Homo sapiens: one gene and its partners. The protein of the gene in region 2 interacts with the protein of the main gene of each other region in a pairwise test. Each region holds a gene or a part of one and is shown on either strand. Other genes may lie near its edges.

What was found.
Region 1: the proteins of TUBA1C (region 2) and TPT1 interact in binary tests that used the Homo sapiens proteins (3 or more experiments, as listed by UniProt).
Region 3: the proteins of TUBA1C (region 2) and PRPF40A interact in binary tests that used the Homo sapiens proteins (3 or more experiments, as listed by UniProt).
Region 4: the proteins of TUBA1C (region 2) and SH3GLB1 interact in binary tests that used the Homo sapiens proteins (3 or more experiments, as listed by UniProt).

Annotation. Positions count from the first base shown.
Region 1 is NC_000013.11:45,331,780-45,335,577, forward strand, and holds the end of TPT1 (translationally-controlled tumor protein), read right to left. Parts: 3' UTR 1,692-3,798; downstream 1-1,691. UniProt on the Homo sapiens protein: Involved in calcium binding and microtubule stabilization. Acts as a negative regulator of TSC22D1-mediated apoptosis, via interaction with and destabilization of TSC22D1 protein.
Region 2 is NC_000012.12:49,271,288-49,275,978, reverse strand, and holds the end of TUBA1C (tubulin alpha-1C chain), read right to left. Parts: intron 3,727-4,691; coding exon 2,752-3,726; 3' UTR 1,379-2,751; downstream 1-1,378. UniProt on the Homo sapiens protein: Tubulin is the major constituent of microtubules, a cylinder consisting of laterally associated linear protofilaments composed of alpha- and beta-tubulin heterodimers.
Region 3 is NC_000002.12:152,675,350-152,680,040, forward strand, and holds part of PRPF40A (pre-mRNA-processing factor 40 homolog A), read right to left. Parts: intron 4,124-4,691; coding exon 4,003-4,123; intron 3,761-4,002; coding exon 3,707-3,760; intron 2,127-3,706; coding exon 2,102-2,126; intron 1,431-2,101; coding exon 1,056-1,430; intron 1-1,055.
Region 4 is NC_000001.11:86,711,076-86,715,766, forward strand, and holds part of SH3GLB1 (endophilin-B1), read left to right. Parts: intron 1-4,648; coding exon 4,649-4,691. UniProt on the Homo sapiens protein: May be required for normal outer mitochondrial membrane dynamics. Required for coatomer-mediated retrograde transport in certain cells. May recruit other proteins to membranes with high curvature. May promote membrane fusion.

The DNA of each region.
Region 1 (3,798 bases), on a different chromosome or scaffold from region 2:
TGTCCAGAAAATACCAATTTTATACCAACTGCTTAGGGAACAGTAGAATAATTTGATAACCCTGTGCTCTAGATGAGGTCATGTGCAAGCCGCAATTGATAATAAACTAGGGCTTATCTGCTTCCTTTACATGTGGAGAAAATCAGCAATTATACAAGTAGATTTTTTTTTTCTATTTTTTATAGAGATGGGCTTTCACCATGTTGTCCAGACTGGTCTCAAACTCCTGAGCTCAAGTGCTCTGACCGCGTCAGCCTCCCAAAGTGCTGGGATTATAGGTGTGAGTCACCACATCTGGCCAACAACTAGATTTCTAGTAACTAGGTGTGGTAGCTCATGCCTGTAATCCCAGCACTTTGGGAGGCAAAGGCAGGAGGATCACTTGAGGCCAGGAGTTTGAGATTAGTTCCAGCAACATAGCAAGACCCTGACTTCCCCCCGCTCCCCCACAAAAAAAAAAAAAAAAACCCAGAAACTCAGGACTAAATGGTAGCCAGTAGCTCTACTGTCCTATTATTAAAAACACTGTGTTATAACTCTTGACTAATAATTGTGGCTTGTGTCCCAGAGGGCCCCTCCAGTGAGTCCCTTGATGTCTCAATTTTCCTTTGTCTGTAGATTGTGACTCACACACAAAACAGCACTGCAGTGTTCTTCCCAGTTTGTGCTCCTTGCTCTACCTCTGGACTCAGAGAAGAGTGGAATGCATACATAAATGAATGGAGGAGAAAGTAATTGAGGGAAACATCATTGCACAAGTTATTTTGGCAAGAATCTTCCCCTAAACTCATATCTGATGTTTCTCTCATTGAATTGTATTGACTCCAGCTAAAGCCACATCCACTCCCAAAGGTTCTCATGGCCCAGCATATGGAGGAAACTTCAATGCCAACTTCCAGGCTCAATTATATGAAACTATGTGTAACCGCACAAATCTACAGGCTCTCAAAAAATAAACTGGAATGTTCTGGTAGTTAAAAATATGCCCCTACAGTAGTAAAATCTGTTTTGAACTGCTGACATGCACAGGGGCCTGATTTATCATTGCTGCATTGATTAAGGGATAGACTTGGAGGATTTAAGTGAGGTAAATAGAAACTATCAGCACTATTATGATTTTTAACTTATCTGCAAGCTCCACATTTAGAGTGTAGCTAATTGAGATGGCTAGCATAGCAGCCAACTTTTATTCAATGGAAGGTATGTGGCACCTTTCTCTTTCAAGAGACAAGACCTCCCTCTATTACCAAGGCTGGAGTGCAGTATTGCAGCCATTAACTCGCTCCAAGCTCAAACTCCTGGGCTCAAGCGATTCTCCCTCCTCAGCCTCCCAAGTAGTTGGGATTACAGGTATGAGCCACTGCCTAGCTATGGCACCTTTTACTTTACTTGCTTATGTTAAAAACACTTTAATCAAGGCCTTTTCCTTCGGAATAATGAAATATTAAATGTTTCCAGAAACTTCAAGTTGCACTCACAGTTCTTATGGATAGTCTCTAGAAACACATGCTAATTGCCACAAAGCTGGAGCTCTTTAGTAGTGACCTACTAGTTGTAAATTACTGATCACTATACTAGTTGTAAATTAGTAAATCCTCCTGGTTTTAGTTCCATTTTACTGAGTATTCTGCTGCCAGCCAGTCATTCCACTCCACCTGTGTGCACACACATATAACCTTAAGGATGCTTTGTTATCAGTGTTCTCTCAAGTTGGTTGAGATTTATTGCTCGTCTTGCAATTTTACCATAATTATCACCAGTTTAGTTTGCAGTTAAGTTACTGACAATCCCTGCAGTTCAGAATGACAGAATTTACATCAACAAAAATCTAGTCATTTAACTAGATTTTGAAACTCCTAATGATCCAAATGAGTAATTCACACCTATTACTGAAGCAGATGCACACATAATAAAAAACCATGTACCTGTATTGTATTTCATGCCTGCGACTGTTAGTCTCTTGAGTGCATTTTAATTAGACTTCCTTTCCCACTAGTGAAATCCAACGGTAGTCAAGTTTACCACTATCAGGCCTCATATTACTTAAGTACTTTGCAACAGGTAACCCTGTTGACTACTTCCTCCTTCCTAAAACTTTTTCCACCTGACCTCTGGGAGGCCCTCCCTTGGTTCTTACCTCAGGGGCAGTTCCTTCTTTTTTAAAATTTTTAAACTTTTTTCAGATAGTGTCTCACTGCCGCCCAGGCTGGAGTGCAGTGGTATGATCACAGCTCACTGCACCCTCAATCTCTCGGACTCAAGCCATCCTCTCAGCTCAGCCGCCTGAGTAGCTGGGACTACAGATGCCCAATTAATTTTTTTAGGTCTCCCTATGTTGCCCAGGCTGGTCTCAAACTCCTGACCTCAAGCGATCCTCCCCACTCAGCCTCCCAAATTCCTGGGGCTACAGGCATGAGCCATGGTTCCTGGCTAAATTTTAGAGATGGGGTCTCCCTGTGGTGCCCAGGCTGGCCTCTAACAATCCTACCTCAGCCTTCTGAGTACAAGTGCAGTGGGAGCACCTCTTAATTACCTTTGTTGGTTTCTCTTTGTCAACCAATCTCATGTTGGAATGCAGTCTATCCTCTCTCCAAATGACCTTATCCTGTATCATGGCTTTCAATGTCTATTGTTATCTTTCCACTCTCTATATAGTTCTCCAGCTTAGACTTCTCTGAAGAATCAGCATCTCAAACTTAACACATCCAAAACTAACAAAACTAAACTCGACTTCCCACCTCAGTGCCAACTTTCTTCCAAACGCTCAGACCAAAATACTTGTATCAACATTAAATCCATCCTCACCCACCAGCATATCCTGTTGTCTCTATCTTCATTTCCTACCACCTCAGTCTACTACCCTAGACTAAGCCACTATCTTTGCCTTAAAAACACATTATACACAATTATTCTATGCTTTTACCCTGCCACCTGGCAGCCAAAGTGATCCTTTAAAAATTTGAGTCATATCATGTAACTCTTCTGCTCAGAGCGCCTGTGGTTTCCTTGAGGTCTGGTCTTCCTTCCTTGCACACTCCCACTGCTTTACAACCCTTCCTGTCTTCTTGGGTTAGCAAAGTGGCCACTTTTTTCCCAGAACACATCACACTCCAGACTAACTGCTGTTGTCTTGGCCTGGAATGGTTTGTCCTGATATCCACATGGCCTACTTCCACACCTTCATTTGTTTTCAAATGTCACATTACAAGGACCTTCCTAGAAAAGTCCTCTTGCTCCACTCAGTTGTTCTCCACACTTTAACAAACCCTAGGGCCCACAGGCTACTAAAGCATGCCTTTGTTAAACTTAGCATCAAAAACAAAATGTTATGAGCTTTCTGATGTTCACATCCTTATTCTTGCCCAAAACGTCTTGACCCTAGGAATAACGAGAAAAAGATATAAAATGAGACAGTCTTCAAAGTCTGAGAAGATTCTACCTGGAATCTTCAAAGGTTTACCATGAGGTAAACAGCTGGGGTTCATCACTTCTGACTTAAATAGACATGATAAAATGCTATGTCCCAGCCTTGATTGGATCTGGATGTTGGGAAAACAGCTAAGAGCACTGAAAGGACAACTGGGGAAATACCTCTTCTGCAGAACTGAAAATCTTCAAAACAAGTTGGAGCAGTGGAGCCCACAAAGTCTCTGAATTGCTACTTGTCTGTTTCAGGCTTCCAAGGCTAGTTCACCAATTAGCTTCCATCTCTCACCTCAAGGCCTTCTTCACTATCCTGGTTTCCCCAGCTTTGACCACTGCCTGAAAATTCCCTTCCTGCTATCATTTCAGAGGACA
Region 2 (4,691 bases):
CAATCAGCAGATCTCCTGGCCTGGGAAGGTCTCAAAATCCCCTCTGGCAGGCTAGCCAGCGTCTTCAAGGTTCACCTTCATTTCAGGCATCCCACCCCGCTCCCCTGCCCAGGCTGCAGGAAGAACCTGGCTCATCTGAGAAGTAGCAGTGGCTGAATTTGTGCTGGGGTCTTACCTTGCCCCGAAGGACATAAAACTATGGTTGCTCTCGACAAATGCTATATAAAACCATCCAGAGCACATAGTTGAGGCATCTCAGGCTGCAAAAGCATGCTGTGCTATGCACGCAGGTATAATATATACATTTAAAAAAATTTGAGACATAAAAAAAAATTTAAGGGAAAAAAATTTTTTGTCCCTTAGGCTGGAGGGCAGTGGCACGATCTCAGCTCACTGCTACCTCCACCTCCCAGGCTCAAGCAATCCTCCCACTTCAGCCTCTCAAGCAGCTGGGACCACAGACGTGCACCACCATGCCCAGCTAATTGTTTGTATTTTTAGTAGAGATGGGGTTTCACCATATTGCCCAGGCTGGTCTTGAACTCCTAAGCTCAAGTGATCCACCTGCTTCAGCCTCCCAAAGTGCCGGGATTACAGGCGTGAGCCATGGTACCCGGCCAAAAAAATGCTCAAAATAGACAGGGTCTCACCCTCTTGCCCAGGCACTGGTCTCAGACTCTTGGGTTTAAGCAATCCTCTCACCTTGGCCTCCCAGAGTGCTGGGACTGCAGCTGTGAACCCCAGCGCTGGCCTTAAACATGCACATCTTTCAGATGCAATTCTCAGAGCAAAGGGGCTAAAGTGAGCAATGGGTAAGGGATACAAAACACCTTTGGGAAAGAGATGGTAACTGGGTACACATCAGAATAAAGTAAGTCACGGAGGAGAGGTGAGTATGCCTGCAACTCTGCCCCCAGGGCCCATCTGCTACCACTCATTAGGCATTCCCACTCAGGCAAGCACCCAAGCACCAAAACTGATTCCTCCCTTCTGCATGAAGCTTCACCTTTTGGTCATTGTCCTTTCCCATTGCTTAGTTCAACTGAGTACCAGGCACCAAGCTCTCCAGCTACGTATAACACTCATGCCCCTTCACCCGTCTGCCCCCAAGAACCACGGTCCTCCAACAGGTGCTTGGAAAAAAGTCCAAATCAGAGAACTCACCCCTCTCCAATCTTTCCTACACATACATATTACTCCTACTTCAAATAATCTCCATGACATACAATTGGGTCAAATGCCAATACCAGAAAAACCGGTGACTGTTATTTTGTCTGACATTTCCACTTTCTCTAAACAATAACCCCTTTAGTACGAACCATCTTTGCCACTGTAGGTCTTAGCTAAGTATGGAATAAATCAGGATTCCAAGCCCTTCTCGTGTGACTAATACTTTATTAAAGACTGACAGCAATAGTTCTGGCAGTGTGGCTGGGCACTTGAATTTTGGCTCCAGCAGTTACTGTTATCTAACCCTTTGCTACTGTACATGTGGTCACATCAGACCAACAGCATCATTTGGGAGGTTATTAAAAAACGTATCTAGGGGCCAGGTGTAGTGGCTCACTCCTGTAATCCCAGCACTTTGGGAGGCTGAGGCAGGATTGCCTGAGCCCAGGAGTTCAAGGCCAGCCTAAGCAACATGGCAAAACCCCATCTCTACCAAAAAAAAAAAAAAAAAAAAAAAAAAAAATTACAAGAATCAGCCAGGCATGGTGGAACACACCTGTAGTCCTGGCTACTTGGGAGGCTGAGGTGGGAGGATGGCTTAGCCCAGGTCAAGGTGGGGGTGAGCTATGATGGTGCCATTGCACTGCAGCCTGGGAAAGAGACCATCTCAAAGAAAAAAAATTTAAGACGTGTCTGAAGCCTCACCTCAAGCCTATAGAATTAGAACCTGCATTTTGTTTTTAAATTTGAGAGTCAGGGGTCTCCGTCACCCAGGCTGGAATGCAGTGGTGCAATCATGGCTCACTACCTCAACCTCCTTGGGCTCAGGTGGTCCTCCCACCTATAGGCAGGTGCCATCACAGCATGCAAATTTTTGTTTTGGTAGAGATGGGTTTTCACCATGTTGCCCAGGCTGGTCTCGAATTCCTGGGCTCGTGATCCACCCAACTTGGCCTCCCGAAGTGCATGAGCCACCAGGTTGACCCCAAACCTGCATTTTAATATCTACAGGTGATTCACATCCATTTTAGTTAGAGAAGCACTGGCTCAATCTGAACCCGTTTCCTCACTTACAAAATGATTCTATAACCACTTAATTCAGGCCCAAATTAAACAGATAAACCAAGAAGCTGGGCAGTGGCTCATGCCTATAATCAAAACTTTGAGAGGTTGAGGCAGGAGGATCACTTGAAGCCAGTTGAAGACCACCCTGGGCAGCATAGCAAGGCCCCATCTCTACAAGAAATAAAAATAGCTGGGCATGGTGGTGTGCACCTGCAGTCCCCAGCTACTTAGGAGGCTGAAGCAGGAGAATCACATGAGTCCAGGAGCTCGAGGCTGCAATGAGCTATGTATTATCATGCCACTGCACTCCAGCCTGGGTGACAGAGCAAGACCCTCGACTCAGGTGGTTTCATCTACCAGCCTCATACATCCAACTTTAACTGGATCAAGTATTTAAGTCAGCTCGACATTTAAAATGGAAACTTCAATTTTATTAACAATTTACGGCAATAGACATTTACAGAACAAAAATAAGACAGTTCCAAGACAAAGGAGTGTAAAAGTACAGCACACAGGTTAATACTCTTCACCCTCATCCTCTCCGTCAGCACTATCTGCTCCAACCTCCTCATAATCCTTCTCAAGGGCAGCCATGTCCTCACGGGCCTCTGAAAACTCGCCTTCCTCCATCCCCTCACCCACGTACCAGTGAACAAAGGCACGCTTGGCATACATCAGGTCAAACTTGTGGTCCAGGCGAGCCCAGGCCTCGGCAACAGCTGTGGTATTGCTCAGCATGCACACAGCTCTCTGTACCTTGGCCAGGTCTCCGCCAGGCACCACAGTGGGAGGCTGGTAATTAATGCCAACCTTGAAGCCAGTGGGGCACCAATCCACAAACTGGATGGTACGCTTGGTTTTGATGGTGGCAATGGCAGCATTGACATCTTTGGGAACCACGTCACCACGGTATAACAGGCAGCAAGCCATGTATTTACCATGGCGAGGGTCACATTTCACCATCTGGTTGGCTGGCTCAAAGCAAGCATTGGTGATCTCTGCTACAGTAAGCTGTTCGTGGTAGGCTTTCTCAGCAGAGATGACAGGGGCATATGTGGCCAGAGGGAAGTGGATGCGGGGGTAGGGCACCAGGTTGGTCTGGAATTCTGTCAGGTCAACATTCAGGGCTCCATCAAATCTCAGGGAAGCAGTGATGGAGGACACAATCTGGCTAATAAGGCGGTTAAGGTTAGTGTAGGTTGGGCGCTCGATATCGAGGTTTCTACGACAGATGTCATAGATGGCCTCATTGTCTACCATGAAGGCACAATCAGAGTGCTCCAGGGTGGTGTGGGTGGTGAGGATGGAGTTGTAGGGCTCAACTACAGCTGTGGAAACCTGGGGCGCCGGGTAAATGGAGAACTCCAGCTTGGACTTCTTGCCATAATCAACTGAGAGACGTTCCATGAGCAGCGAGGTGAACCCAGAACCAGTTCCCCCACCAAAGCTGTGGAAAACCAAGAAGCCCTGAAGACCGGTGCACTGGTCAGCCTGCAAAATAAAAAAGTTTCATTTTAGTGTTGCGAAAGTTTCATTTAGTGTTCACATTTGGTGAAACCTACAGAGGACTTCTATAAATCTATGGCTACTCCAATTGCAATTTTAAAACTCTTCTGGGCCAGGCGCAGTGGCTCACGCCTGTAATCAACACTTTGGGGGTCCAAGGTGGGAGGACCATTTGCATTTGAGCCCAGGGGTTCAAGACTGATGATCAGGCCACTGCACTCCAGCCTGGATGACAGAGCAGACCCTGTCTCCAAAAAAAAAAAAAAGCTTTTAAGTGCTAAGTGATTCAGAACAACTTTTCACAATCAAGTCCTTGAGCAGAAAAACCTTTGCTAAGACTATTTTAAGATGAACTATTGCCTTAGGCAGAGGAATCACAAGGCCTGGGCTTGCATACAGGGCTCAAGTTTTGGTAACTGGGAAGGCAGCCTCTGGTTCTCTTGCTGTGGCCACAGAACAGGGCAGTTTCTTAGTTGGAGAGGTCCTAAGGGGCAGGCCCAGGACCACCAGCCTGGTACAGTGGATGTCTTGTAAAGATTTGGCAGCTGCTTTCTGAGGTGGAACAACAGAATAGCCAAAGTTCTAACACCCTGGTACTGGAGTCAGGCTGTGTCAGGATCCGGCTGTACCAGTTCCTTACTGTATGACCACATTCATTTCTCAGTTCTTCCACTGATTAAGTGAGAATAGTAATCACCTTAGGTTGAGAATTAAGTAAGTACTCAGCATAGTGCTTGGCACAGTAAGCACAGTATTGGCCCAGTAAGCCAATATATGACACTAGGTACCAAGAAGCCCATTTATTTTGGGTAAAGTGACACAACCACAATTCCATGAGACCTCAGGTTGTTGGGGATTTCCTCCACCTAACTGGGCTATTTTGGTTAGCAAACTGCTACTTTACGAAGGAATGATTTTGACCTTCCAAATAAAGTATTCTGTTGTAAACT
Region 3 (4,691 bases), on a different chromosome or scaffold from region 2:
ATTATTATGGCTGAATGGCTTTTCATATACTTCCTAGACAACTTTCTTTCTCTGTAAATTGCCTTTTTTCCTTGGCCAGGTGGAGTGGCTCGCACCTATAATCCCAGCATTTTGGCACGCTGAGGCAGGCCAATGAGCTAGGCATGGTGTGTGTGCCTGTAGTCCCAGCTACTCAGGAGGAGGCTGAGATGGGAGAATCGCTTGAGGCCAGGAGGTCGAGGATGCAGTGAGCCCTGATCACGTCACTGCACTCCAGCCTGGGTGACAGAGGGAGACCCTGTGCCAAAAAAAAAAAAAGAAAAAAAAAAGAGAGACAGGGTGGCCTTGCTGTCTCACCCAGGATGGAGTGCAGCGGTGCAATCATAGCTCACTGCAGCCTTGAAATCCTAGGCTCAAGTGATCCTCCTGCCTCAGCCTCCTCAGTAGCTGAGGTTACAAGTGCTGGCTAATTTTTAAATTTTTTGTAGAGACAGAGTCTTGTTATGTTGCCCACGTTGATATTAAACTCTTGGCCTCAAGTGATCCTCCTGCCTCATCCTCCCAAAGTGCTGGGATTACAGGTGTGAGCCACCATGCCCAGCCATAAACTGCTTTTTTTTCCCCCATAATTCATTTTTCTACAAAGCTGTATTTTTTTAACTGATTTATAGGAGGTTGAAACCCAAAACACCAATAACCAAAGAAGAAACAATACACCTGTCTTAACTGAAAATACTGATAGTTTGTTAATCATGAATTTTTGCACTGATCTGATGTAAAATATTGCATCAAAATATGATGTATCTTGCTTACTAAGGTTTTTGGCAATCTTTTAGATTTGTGCCCCAACTCCCTAGCCTTGGCTCTACTTGTTAAAATTTCACTGAACTATTTTTCAAGTTTGCTGGCATAACCCTCCAAAATTCGGCCTGAAAACTGATCAACTGTCTTAACGGTGATATTACGATTCTCAAAAAAATTTATTTAAACTATTAATGGCCACTAACTAAACTGGCAATTACTTTTATTTAATGCAATCTGGTACTGATTTTCAGAAGACAAGTTACTAAACTTACTCAGCTACAGTTTCTTGCTTAGATGTTTCTTCTCCAGTATTACTGGATACTTCCACACTTTGATCCTGAATAGCAGGGGTACTAGTAAGTTGTGCTTGTTCCTCAGTTGAAATAGTTACTGTATTCTCATTATCTACAACAGTAGCAACAATGGAAGTAACTTCAGGCTCAGGAACAACTGGAACAGTTCCACTGACAGTATTAGAAGCAGAAGTGGAAGCATTAGCATTGGCTGCAGCTGCTGCTGCTGCTGCCGCTGCTGCTGCTGCAACAACAGCAGCTGCTGCTTCGGCAGCAGCCATGGTGCTCATTGTGGTCGGAATTTCTGTTGTAGGGACTGGGGCTGTTGATGTTGTGGTGCACTCTTCTTGCTTACTATACATTAAAAAAAGAGAACACTGGTCATTTCATTATTGTAATCAGAAAGCTAAATAAAGGTAGCTTTAAAATGGTCATAAAATCAAATAATAAGAAAAATAATTGAAGGAAAAAACGGCAAGAAATGCCAAGCCCATTAAAAAAGATTTTAAAACCACAGAATGTAACTGTACTACTTTAATTCCGTTAACATTCATGGTAATGTATTACAGGCACTCAAAAGTTCAGTAAGCGTTCACATTTATAAAATACCCAATCTATCAGACTGTATTTACACCACGAAAAATGACCTGTATTAGAAAGTTCTCTAAGAACTTTAAATTTTCTCCAGTTTGCCCATTTAGAGGAAACCCTATATAAAGGAAGAGATACACAGATATATTTCGTCCATTCCCTAATCAACTCAAACGGAATTTGGGACTCTTCTGTAACACAGTCTTCTTAATTTGTTAAGGGATACAGTCCAAATTCTAATAATTACTGTATAGCAAAACATCAAATTGAGTAAATATCCCCCTCCCTAATTTTTCCTCAACAAAATGCTACAAGGACATCAAAATATCAAGCCTAACATGTTAATTATTTGTATTATGAAAATTGAGAAAACACAAGGATATCATAGGAGAGACCAAATTTGTAAATAAAAATTGATGTCCAAAATTGCTTACCTGCTTTCTTCAGCTTTGATCATTGCTATTAAAGAGAGAAAAAAAGTCATCTACTAGTTTTAAAATATAATCACTGAAAACAAACTTTAAAAGAAGATAAAGTATCATACAATAGGATTTCATTTACCATCCTAAAAAATAAAAAATCACTTTTACAGAACAAATTCTTGCTCCGAAAGTCTAGTATAGCAAATAAAGAATACAACAAACTTAAATAACAGTAATTACTAGGAAAGCTTATTCCATGCTGCTGCTTTCCCAAAGGCTGCTGCAACAACTCTATGAAAGTATCTGCATAATTCTGGATGAAAACTGTATTTTCTTCAGGGATGAGACTAGTTTGATATATTTTTAAGATACTAAATTCAAAATGGGATCAAATTTATTATAAAATTCCAGCACATATATACTAGCATTGACAAGTAGATAGATAGTTACGCACACCAACTATTTGTAGTAGGGTTATATCAGAAATGAGCTTGATAATTCATAAATGATCAACTGGGAATCTACCTATCTACAATATTATTATTAGCCAATGCTAGTATAGGTAACTTAAACTGAGCTTTAAAGATCTGCACAATTTCATTTTTCATTCCAGTACATTTTCCTTTGGATGTAACAAAAATACCTTTTATTTAACATTACTAGGGAATGAGGTTCTCCACATTAAGTAATAATACAAGCCTAACTCTTTATAAAAAAAATTTTTAAAACTTATCACCCTTTAAAGAAAAACATTTCTGAAAATCTGTTTAGGATGGCTGAAAAAACATACTTACAAAGTTATCATTAATAATATAAATTAACATTTTTCTGATACAATGATGATCTATCTATCTAATGAGGTGGCACAAGGAAAAGGTAAAGGGGCTTAATATGACAGTCTTTTAGGAAATTTTTATTCTCTTTTCCTGCCAGATGTCATTCCACATCACTATCTACTTTATTAGCCCCATTCTCCTACAATCTGCTGCTTCTAGTTTTGTATAATTTATGACACTAGATTCTATTAGAAGTGAGTATAAAAACTAGATTTTCAATCCTTACTTATTATCTCTATTTTAAGTCTTAGGTTTTATATTTAGTATTAAGTATTTCTAGATTTTTAAGGGTTATTCTGATTAGTTCCAATGTTGAAAAATTTTCCCTTTATAAGTAAGGCATGATACTTGGTTTACCTTAATTCTTCCATAAAGAACATATCAAGGCTATTTTGCAACACTGTGCTAAACAAAACTAGCATTAAATATATAGTCTGACAATATACTAACAAAATATAAATGGATACAGATTCAAGGTTCTCCACTATCTATTACCATGAAATGAGTTAAAACACATGTTCTATGTATGCACCACTCATAGTAGGACTTGGAAATTTTGTATATGAACTCCTTGTTCAATTGAATGATAAACGATCTTTTTTCTAAAAACCAAAGTACGACTTTAAAAGCTACAAGCTCATTTATAATATAACCCTTTAATGAAAAGAATTCTTAGAGATTTTTCACTGCAGATTTATCCAATTATGGTTAGTGAATATTAGTGACATACTCTAATAAAAATGTTAAGTATGACAGAAAATGAATTATCAAAGCAGCTCACCATGCAGGTTTGATTTTGTAATAAGACTTCCAGCAACAATGGTATTCTGGTATCCTAGTTTCAGTGGAATCAAATCAAATAAAAATCTATTTAAAATCTACAGAACTGAGATCTAAAGCAACAAGAAAATAAGAGCCCAAAAAACTGTTATACGCCATTTTAAATGTTCTAATCATTTAATTAAAAAAAAAAATAAGGCCTTTGTTTGAACAATCCTATTCTGGAGGAATTGTTTCAAAGTGAATGGCATATATATGTAAAACATATACATTGAAAACTACTTTTCCCCATTTTACCTTCAAGATCCTCAAGTTCTTTAGGTTTGGCCCAGCGAGATTCTTTTGTTTGAGAATTATAATAGTAAGGCTTTCCAGAATCTGATTTGTATTCCTTCCAGGGGCATTTAGATAAGAGTTGCTGAAAAGGAAAAAACTGTTTGTTAATAATAATATATTTAACATCACTGATCATTTACATGGCTGTTTTCACTAGAAATTACCAATTGATACAATTCTAAAACTCGTGAGATGATGGTAATAATATAAACTATCAATTATTGAATATTCACTGAGTGATGCCATTTGAATACATTATTTAATCTTTATAACACTGCAAAATGTGTAACATAATTCTGTATCTAGGGACTGTTACTTGAAGTCAGAAAGTAACTTGTTTAAGGTAATATACTCATTAAAAAGCAGAGACAAGATTCAAAACCAGTTCTATATGAATTTCAAATCCTATTTACTGTAACCATTCACACCCCATTATAGGTCAAGATTATCATCCACATTTTTTTTTTTTTTTTTTTTTGAGACGGAGTCTCGCTTTGTCACCCAGGCTGGAGTACAGTAGCTCGACCTCGGCTCACTGCAAGCTCCGCCTCTCGGGTTCACGCCATTCTCCTGCCTCAGCCTCTCTGAGTAGCTGGGACTACAGGCGCCCGCCACCACGCCCAGCTAATTTTTTGTATTTTTTTTTAGTA
Region 4 (4,691 bases), on a different chromosome or scaffold from region 2:
TGCACCTTACAGTTTACTAATACATTATTCAGAATCTGTGTTACATATTTTCCAAGAAATTTAAATTACTTTTAGAGTATTACCCTTTAGTAATACTGGTGATTAGAGTTTGCATTAAATAGATGTCTTTGATCACACACCCATTTTATTTGTAGTCTTTTTTTTTTCTAAAAGTAGAGTTTGGAATCCAGGCTCCTTATTTAATAATGTGGGTTATATGCCTATCCTGTAGTAAAAGAAGGATTACAGTGCCTGGTATAATGTAGCCGACTCAAAGACAATTCTTTCCGCAAAGCAATATTTAGAGAAAATATATAAAAGGGGATTAAACTTTTATTCTTATGCCACTTTGCCATATTACAAATGAAATATGAAAAAATTAGGTATCAAATTATATTTTAGAAAACATTGAGTTTAATGACTTACTAAGAAGATGCTTATTTACAGTTTGCCTTTTATTTTAGGTTGTTTACACAAAAGTTCTTAATTATTAAACTATACTGCCATCTATTCATTAAAAGATATGCTTAAAATCAACTAGTTTCTCATTAATACCTATTATCAAGAGATTACAAAATCAGTAATGATTTTTGACTTGAAGATGTTGAAAACTAAAATTTTTATGGGTTAATTTAAAATTTTTTGGTAACTAGGAAAGGGATCTTTTTTTAAAAGAAAGAATTAATAGGTCTTTTGCCCTTCTGAAAAGGTGCCATTATTATAATTTTGTTTGAGTCAAGGCAGTATTCTCCTAGTAGATCATAAAATCCTTGAGGGCAAGAAGTACATCAGATGCTGATCATCTTGCTGTAGAAGCCATAAATATTTTTGATTAGTAATTTAAATATTAATTTAGTTGAGATGACTCCTAGTGTCTGTAGTAGACGCATTATTTACAGTGCTTTAGAGAAAATGTATTAAATATTGTATTTGTTATCTTAATAAAGTGTACTTCTGATTAATTATGGAAAAATCCTTTTGCTTCCACCAATGATAAAATTTGGGAAATATTATGTCTTTTACAATTATATATTTAAGTAATAAGATTTAAATTTATAATTTCAATTTTAAAATATGATAGCATTAGCAATGTCCTTATTGTGTGTCTTCCTCCCTTTTATTCATTCATGATAGGATTTAGTTTACTAATTTTGGTGAATAATTATTGAATATCTTGTAGAAAGCAGAAGTGATCTGGGGGAGAAAGCTGTCCAGAGTGCTGCGAACAGACATAGGAGAAAGGAAGCACAGAATATGATTGGATAATAGTAATAGAAATAGAAAATACTAATTTTGGAAATCAGCAAGTATTTACTGGAAGGGTAGTATAGCATGATAAGACTATGACTCAAACAGATGTGAGATTGAATCCCAACAATGACACCTTGGACAAAGTGTTTAATCACCCTGAGTCTCAATTTATTAATCTCTACAATTATTCTTACTTTATTTTAAGATTCTTTCGAGTATTTGTTGTAGAATGCACAGCTTAGTTAATGGAATTTTTGAACATACACTAAGCCTTGACACAGAAGTATGAGAAAGATGTAAATGGATGTGCTGAAATGTGAAACATAGAAACATTGTCATGTGACCCTACAGTACTGCTATTTTCTAAACAGGTTTTCTGTAATTAGACTGTCTCACTCATGTGTAAGGGTTCCATGTATCTTCTGAACTAAAATAGTTAAAAAAAAAAAACCTACTAATTGTGTGTGTTTGTAGAATCTTTATCAGTTAACATATTTTCTTTCTTCCTCAGACTCATACAAATAAATCACTTGGTGCAAATACCCATCTTTGCTCTGTTATACTTTCATACTCTTTTCAAAAAGAATATATATTTATTGAGATACCTGGGAGGTAGTATCATGAGAGTCACAAAGAAAATGTTAAATAATTAAGCAAACAGGCCTTTTTACCTGAAGATTGAAGTGTTTTATTTTCCAAATAATTAACTTTCTAATTGCTGATTTTCCTGAAATACTGTCGGGAGAAAACTTGCCCTGAACCCCAGTTTGTATCAGATAAATTCAGTGACTATTTTATTTTATATTTATTTATTTTATTATTAACTTATTAATTAGAGATAGGGTCTTGCTGTGTCACCCAGAATGGAGTGCAGTGGAGTGCAGCTGGGACTACAGGTGTGCACCACCATACCTGGCTAATTTTTTGGATTTTTTTGTAGAGACGTGGTTTCGCCATGTTGCCTAGGCTGGTCTAGAACTCCTGAGCTCAAGTGATCTGCCTGCCTCAGCCTCCCAAAGTGCTGACATTACAGGCGGGGGCCCCTGCTCCTGGCCATAAGTACTGATTTTGAATTATTGATCTGTTGATTTTTCTATTAATCTATTCTTGGTTATTAACTATAAGTTAAGGATTTCCACAGAGAAATTAATATTTAATATGTGTGAGGGTGATGCTAATGAGCTTAAAGAAATTGTGCAACTGGAAGATAAATCATCAGGACTATACACTCTTTCCTTAGATCTTAACATAGTTCATATCATTCAGTCACAGGTCGTTTGTTACCTACTCAGAGATGCTGTTTCTCTAACTACCCGCATCTCACACTCCTCAAACTCCTGCTCCCCTTTCTAGGCCCAAGTTGCCCATCCCTCCCCCACTGAAGCCTTCCCTGATTCTCCTGCTCTCCCTCTTCCTCTCCCTGAAGAATGAATTCTTTCTCTGTACTTGGATTTGTATGTCACTCAGAAACAAACCAACCATGTTGGTCCGCTTTACCATCTTCATATCTTTATATCCTTATTATCAGATTATTTATTTATCTATTGTCTGTCTTTGCCATTAAAATGTAAGCTTCCTAAGAACAGAAACCTTATATGTTTTGTTGGCTGCTGAAACCCATGTGTTTAGAAGAGTGCCTAGCACATATGTAGGTGCTTAATAAGTATTTGTTGAAGGAATAAACAAAATGAACAAACAAATGGATAAACTTGCTTATTAAAGGGAAATTTATGCATGCAGTTTCAATTTTTAAGGGGCTAAGTGAATTTTTTTTAGATCACTCTTTATAGGTGATGTTCACCTGAGTGAAAGGTATTCCCTTTCTTCCCTTCCTATTGGTCACTTTATCTGGGAGTTATTTTATCTAGCCATTGGTGGTAGACTTTGAACATGTAAAAGTCTAGTAGGAGGTCTGTTGCTTAGAATCTTCAGGGATCTGTAAAGACTACGGGGTTCTCTGTTAAGAATGAGGTTGCATAGTTTATCCAGCTGGCCTTGGGATCAGGGTTTGCTTTTGCTCAGTGCCCAGTCCTCCAGCTACACTGCAAGTTTATGGGCTTAGGCAATAGCTTTGTAACTGCTATTTTTGGTTCTACCCACTAGGTCAGGGGCTGGCTATAGACCATTCTCAAAAAGACCCAAGGCTTTACAAAAGCTATTTAAGCTGTTATTTCTAGCCCCTAAACAGGAGCCTCAGTGGAGATTGTAACCAGAAGTCTAAGAATAGAATTCTAGAGGATCCTTCAGCTTAAGGTGTTGATAATAACCTGAAAGTATTAAACCAAGAAGAAGGATGCTGAAAGAAACAATAAAACTCAGAAAATAGAGTAGCAAACGAGATTTTTGAGAAACGAAAGGAGAGAAAGGCAAGGTGAACACTGTTTTGTCAGCCAGAAGTGAGTCATTACTGAGCACAGAATTAATGCTAGTGATATACCTGTGTTAAGATGGGAGGAAGCCACATATTCTAGAGGAAAATGATGCATGATAAACAGCTTGAGTCATCACCTCTAATGTTTAATTAAAAGTATCCAGAAGGCTGTAGATCTACACAGAATCTTTTTACTGCTTTATTATTATATAGGCAGTGCTACCTTTTCTCAAATACCAGTATATTCAATAATAAAAATTGATTCATTGAGTACGTTTAACCACATTTTATGACCTTTAAAAGATGTCTTCATAGTATGAATAGGATATGTTCCAAAAGTTAGTCTATAAATAAATTGCTGGAACATATCCTCAGCAGCTTAAATGACAGGTTTTATGGTATGTTCTGGGAAACTATTTATCTAACTAGGTGTGATTAAAGTGCTAATAAGACATAAACCACAATAAACATTAACAGCTCTTTCAAAACTTAATAATTACAAGGCACCAAACAAAGTGATTTGCATACACAATCATACTTAATCCCCCAAACACTATAAAATATGTATTGTCTCTCTTTTATAATAGAGGGTACTAAAGAAAAAATATTCAATACATTGCTCAGCTCACACAGCAAGGAACAAAGTTAAGATTTGAATTCAGATTCAACTGACTCAAAGCTCTTACTCTTTACCGTTATCCTAGTCTACCTAGGATAGGTAGTTGAAATAGTTGCATGCTTTATATACCAAGAAGTATACTTAGGTTTTCTGTAGAATTCACACCATACATTTTAGCAGAACTAAGGGTATGTGATGACTGTAAGGTAGGGTCATCCACAAAAGAAGTATGGATAAATTACCATAGGAGCAAAAAAAAGTATTCATAAGCAATGGCTTACAAAGCTGGAGCATGGTTATTTGTATGTTTAGGATTGTTTAGCTTTGAATTTGCTTTTTACTTATTGATATGGTTCCCTAAAATTTATTTGCAGTATATTTAATTTTTGTTTTACAATCAATAACAGTTCACAGAAGAAAAGCTTGGCCAGGCTGAGAAGACAGAATTGG